Regions from separate parts of the Homo sapiens genome. Here region 1 is linked to region 2. Evidence: fine-mapped expression QTL. A gene starts in region 2. The other region holds a variant in brackets. All regions are shown on one strand. Distances are between the middles of the regions. Region 1 overlaps LINC00452 (long intergenic non-protein coding RNA 452). Region 2 holds the start of GAS6 (growth arrest specific 6).

Region 1 (2,906 bases), 42 kb before region 2:
ACCCAGGACTTGTTAGGCCAAGAGATGAGTACAAAATTTATATTGAAGAAACAACAAATTTTGTAAGGAACTATAGGAAAAAATTGGGTCAGTTGAGAGATGTCAGCATGATACCAAAGGCAGAAACCAGAGATGGGAGGACCGGTAAGTCTGAGAGCATAAAAATATAAAACCCACCATGTACACATTTGTAAAGCAAACAGAAATATAAAACTCCACTAAGGGACATGAAAAAGCAGGTGACTAGATGCAGAAACATGCTGAACACTTAGGAGCCCTTTTATTTGTTGAAATATTTTCAAATAAGTGAAAAAATCAGGTAAAGCAGGAAATTGACAATGATACATATACATCTCAAATGCTTCCTTTTAACTTAAAATATATGAGTCTGAATTGATTTGATTCTTGTGAGAACATCTCTGTGAGGTCTGCTCTTTGAATTTGTTTTTTCCTGGCAAAAAGAAAAGAAATTTTAAAAATCTTATAATTCATCACTCATGGTTTTACGCTTTATTTCCTTAAATTAAGGCAAGAATTAAAGATGCTGTCATGGTGATCTGAGGGCAGAATCCCTTTGAATGTCATCTTCCTCCAATTTTTACAGCTTTCTTGCATATATTTGGTTTTGCAGCATTAAAAACACTTTGCCAGTTTGTCTCCACCAAGCCTTCCTGAGCGCTCTCCCACTCTGCAGTCCTGGCCCATTCCCAAGAGGCAGAGATGCATGCAGAGGGCACCAGCGGGCCTGGCAGCCACCCTTGGCTCTGCTGAGCCTTAGCTGTGGGAGAGGCCACCTGGGCCCCCGGCTCTGGATGTGTGTGGAGGGATGGAGGGTGCAGGCTGGCCTGGCATGTCGGCTATGTGTGGCCAACCAGAAGAGCTTGGCACCACCCTTGACAGGAAAACTCAATATTTGATTCCCTAATTCCTCCCCTAGGAATTTTTCCTAATGGAACTCAGTGCCCACTTCATAGTAGTGGTTATCTCTGCATAAATTTTATTTCCTTCTTTGTGTTTTCCTGTATTTTTCAAATGGTCTGCAATCTACACGGATTACTTTTATAATTAGAAAAAAATTAATTGTAAAAACATTGTTTGAAGTTTAAAGAGTGCCATCTTGGTTACTACTCAAATCTTTATACTGTCCTTACGTTTTTCAGTGTTAACCCAAACTGTGACGCCCATCTCCCTAGGACACATCATAGGAAGGCCTGCTTCAGTGAGAATGCACTCGAGATAGGAAATTACCCGTGTTGATAAGC[A/G]GGGCCTGCCTATGTTTTTAAATTTCAGGCTCCCTAATAAAAGGAGTAGGATAAAATGCCAGCATGCTGACATTTCAGGACACTGCCGTCCGGCGGGGGACTGCGCACAGCGCTGCCCACTCTGTTCTGACCCCCACTGTCCTCTGACTCCTCCTGGGTTGTCCTGCCATGTTCCCATGGGGAAGGTGTCACACCCAGTGCCAGTGGGTGATGATCAGAGGGGATATGACAGGGCTCTAGGTGGTACCTGGATGGATATTTTTTAAAATAGTTACTAATTTATTTTAGTGTGCTGTAGAAAAAACCAGGCAGCACAATGGACCTTCAATCTCACACAGATGTATTTAAATGTATTTAAATGTAAACATATTTTACATTTAAATGTATTTAATGAGTCTATTGAAGATGCCCTAGGTAGACAATAATTCAGAGCACATGGATATGGCAAAACTTTGAAATCTGCACACAGAAGGGTGCAATTTGGGAAACTGTCATATGAAATCGCACTTGGGCTGCACATTACGAACACGGCAGGTCGTATCTGTGTGTTTTCATTGCTTTTAAATCTCTTTTAGCAGCTCATTCTGTGCAGGCACCGGTTCTGATTTACTTAAGAAGATGGTCTTAACTTCCCTTTGATGGGTATCGTCATCCTTTCTCTTAGTTGGTTTCAGTATTATTGCAATAGGATATACTGAAGTTTTGAATAATTTATTAAACGAATCTTTACTTCCTAGATACAACTATCTTGACTTTTTTCTAAGTACTACACTTTTGAAGTAAAATAAAGCCTCACCTCAACAACAGAAGTGGGGTCCAGAACATCCCGTGGGTAGGATGTGGGAGCTTTCCTGCAAGGTCGAGTGGCCCCTGCTGGGACCCTACCTCTGGCTTAAACTGTGACGGAAAGATTCTGGGTATTGTGGTTGCCTGGAGCTTCCACGATTCAGCAAGGATTCCAGGACTGTCCTGGGGAGTAGCTGCCGTTTAATTAGCCTGACAGAGAGATCGCTCCTGGAGAAGCCTGTAGACGCAGGACTCCTGCCTTGTTGAAGGATCAGATGTAGCAAGTGAAGAGGGAAGGTGAGGAGGCTGCCAGGCAGCCGGTCAGTGGGTGCCGCTTAAGAGAAAGTGTTGGCCAGGACTGCAGGGGCAAGAACCAGGACACAGGCCTTTGATTTGTTACCTGAAGGGCCTGCTGGGGCTCGGATGCAGGTTGGTGACAGACTCAAACTTGCCATAACCTTTTCCTCAATGTATCCTCATTCCAAAAGTCTAGGGGATTAATTCCAAAATAGTTAGATAGCCCCCTTGTATTTCTTCGTGGGTGTTTTTATGATCCTTCCTCTTTCTTTATCACCTTAAAGCCTGACAAGCAGATGCCTGGGGATGGGGCTGGGGTGATGAAACCTTTTAGCATTGCTTGGGATGAGGCTTGCTGCCTGTGAAATCAATGCCAAGATGCGCTTTGAGTAAGGAAACTTTCTGGAATTAACCTTTGAGTTATTTATTTCCATGTTGCTGATAAGGGCTTGAAAGTTCTGTCTGGGTTGCAAACACGGCCCTGATTGCTTATTAACTGCGTGATCTCCTACAGGTCACTGATTCTTCTCAAGCCTCGGTTTCTTTATTTGTAGCTTGAGG
Region 2 (2,906 bases):
TAGGAAATAATAGCTAGAAGTGCCTCAGACACTGCCTGGCACACAGCAGGTGCTCAATGAATTACACTGCCTGGCACATAGTAGGTGCTCAATGAATTGTCTGATGAAGTGATTAAGGAGCCTTGTAAATACTGATTAAAACATGTATCACCCCATCCAATTTTTCAAACCAGTGCTTCTCAAGAACAAGCAGGAAAATTAATGTAATATTGTTTTGAAGTAGCCGTGGTGGTTTCGGGGCAGAAGCCCAGGGGTACTCCTTACTCCGCCTGCTCCAGTAACTAGCTGACATGGAAGTGCCTCGTCATTCTGGTTCAGACACAGGTGCAGATAGATGACTTCTCTATCCCACTTTAATTCTCCTTGAAGATCATTCCCAGGGACATTCATTTGCTTAAATTAACATGCTCGGCCAGGCGCGGTGGCTCACACCTGTAATCCCAGCACTTTGGGAGGCCCAGGCGGGCGGATCACGAGGTCAGGAGATTGAGATCATCCTGGCTAACACGGTGAAACCCCGTCTCTACTAAAAATAAAAAAAATCAGCCGGGCGTGGTGGCGGGCGCCTGTGGTCCCAGCTACTCGGGAGGCTGAGGCAGGAGAATGGCGTGAACCCGGGAGGCGGAGCTTGCAGTGAGCAGAGATCACGCCACTGCACCCCAGCCTGGGCAACATAGCGAGACTCCGTCTGAAAACAAACAAACAACAACAACAAAAATTCATGCTCATAATCCCACTTTCAAACCAGTGACCTCAAAGATTTCTAGCAGCAATCCTATTCCATTCTTCCAATTACAGAAAGCAAAGAGAAACTGGATCTGGGGATCTAAGCGTTGAGCCTGCTGAGCAGAACGGCCATTCATTTGGGGTGAGGTGCTGACTCACTGCCCCTCTACATTGCATTTTGGGGTGTGGGGATTTCCAGAGCAGGATTCTCCAGAGAGGAGTATCCAAGCTCCCTCCTCCCGCAGCAGGGGGATGCTGGGCTAACTGCCTGGTTCGGTCCCCCGTGAGTGGTCTGCTGTGTTTTGGTTCTGTTTGTTTGTGTGTGTTTTGCCTATGACTTTGCGAAATATTCCAAGACAAGAGCCAGAAAGTCTTGGTCTCTGAAGACAAGCACAATGTTGCTTTCAGCTTAAATATCTACTGGGAAACCTCAAGATTTTTAATGTCATCATTATGAAAAACAGAGATTATAAAAGGAAACCGTCGCATTTCACTCGCTGGCCCCCAGTGGGATTGGATCTGACCTCAGTGTATCTTTTCTTTGGTAGGTTTTAAGTCTTGACAAAATGTGCCTAAGAATGAAGACTCCAAAAAGGATGCAGTAGATTCGGGGGGAGTGGGGGTTGGAAAGAGGCTTAAATCTTCACATGACACCTGGAATATGGTCAAAATGTACCTGCTCAAGTTGAACCAGGTATTGCGTCCTCCTTTTACCCCATCGCTAGTGAAGACAACCACCGCCTGGGGAGACGCTCCTTTTCCGAAACACTCGAGTCCCGCCGCGTCCCGGACGCTCCGCTTTCCCCGCGCCCGGATCCTCCCGGGAACCCGCGCCCCGCCCGCGCGCTGGTCCCGCCCCCGCCGCCTCCCCGCGCGCAGCCGCCCGAACACGCCCAGACCGAGCGCTTGAGGTGCCGCAGCCGCCGCCGCCGCCGCCGCCGCGATGTGACCTTCAGGGCCGCCAGGACGGGATGACCGGAGCCTCCGCCCCGCGGCGCCCGCGGCTCGCCTCGGCCTCCCGGGCGCTCTGACCGCGCGTCCCCGGCCCGCCATGGCCCCTTCGCTCTCGCCCGGGCCCGCCGCCCTGCGCCGCGCGCCGCAGCTGCTGCTGCTGCTGCTGGCCGCGGAGTGCGCGCTTGGTGAGTCCCGCGGGCCCGAGACCCCGTCCCCGGGCGGCGGGAGGAGGCTCCGGGCGCGGCTTGACGCGTCCCCCTCTCTCCCTCCGGGCAGCCGCGCTGTTGCCGGCGCGCGAGGCCACGCAGTTCCTGCGGCCCAGGCAGCGCCGCGCCTTTCAGGTCTTCGAGGAGGCCAAGCAGGGCCACCTGGAGAGGGAGTGCGTGGAGGAGCTGTGCAGCCGCGAGGAGGCGCGGGAGGTGTTCGAGAACGACCCCGAGACGGTGAGCAGCCGGCGGGCGGGATGCGGGGGAACCCCTGGCGCCCGCGCGCCTCCAACCGCTCCCGAGAGGCAGCGCTGCTGCCGCCCCCCAGCTCCGCGCGGCGAGGCCTGGCCTCAGGGTCCCAGGAGCCCCGGCCCGCCCCGCGTCCCCCACGCCCATCCCCCGGCGACCCCGGGATCCCCGCGCAGGCCGGTGAGACGCTGCGGGGCTGTCCGGGAAACGCTCGCTGTCAGACGCCTCCCCGCGGGGAAGCCGGGAGTCCGTTTCCAAAGTGCGAGAGAAACACAATGGTTAAAACCCAAACCGCTTCCCCGCGGCCCTCCCTCTGCTGGGCTGGAGGTGAGGAACCCCCGGGCCGCGCCTCGTCCTCCTGAGAGGGGTGGAGAGCAGTCCCCTCCCGAAAGAGGAATTGAAAGGGCCGAGGGCGGGAACTGCTTGCGGCAGCAGGTCCAAAAATAAGATTCCAGGAATCGAGCGGGGCCGCATGCGGGAGGGGAGGGCGGCTCCGCGGCCCCGTTCTGCCAGGTGCTCTCCTGGAGGCAGCGGGTGCTTTCAGGAGCCCGACGGTGCTGGCCCCGGCACCTCGGTTAGGAATGTCCTTGGAGAAGGCGGGGCGCCCGGGGCCGCCTCCCGCAGGAGCCGCCGTGTGAGGACGGCCTGGCCACTCTATCCTGCGGGCTCGGGAGCGGGTGACTTTGGAAAGTCCGAGAAGGTGTGGATTCCCGTTGACGTCCCTCCCGCCCTGAAGTCAGGGTGATTTCATAGCGAAGTTTTCCGTTCTGC

The links. PIP is the estimated chance that this variant, and not a neighbour inherited with it, causes the effect. A credible set is the group of variants that fine-mapping cannot tell apart.
Region 1: its variant is the best candidate, but not a certain one, in a credible set for the expression of GAS6 in fibroblasts (GTEx, PIP 0.67).

What each region holds. Positions count from the first base shown.
Region 1 is chr13:113,904,614-113,907,519 of GRCh38, reverse strand. The region is part of intron 3 of LINC00452 (long intergenic non-protein coding RNA 452); the gene reads right to left. Among named protein-coding and RNA genes, the nearest start is that of LINC00452, 11 kb to the right of the region's middle. The variant A/G (reference allele first, on the strand shown) is at 1,263.
Region 2 is chr13:113,862,792-113,865,697 of GRCh38, reverse strand. It overlaps GAS6 (growth arrest specific 6), which reads left to right and starts at 1,622. Exons shown (of 15, transcript NM_000820.4): 1 at 1,622-1,865; 2 at 1,957-2,123. The coding sequence starts at 1,778. GAS6-DT (GAS6 divergent transcript) reads right to left here and starts at 1,521. Exons shown (of 2, transcript NR_044993.1): 1 at 1,403-1,521; 2 at 1-688. RefSeq lists silencers at 1,929-1,988, 2,009-2,068, 2,549-2,598 and an enhancer at 1,617-2,208.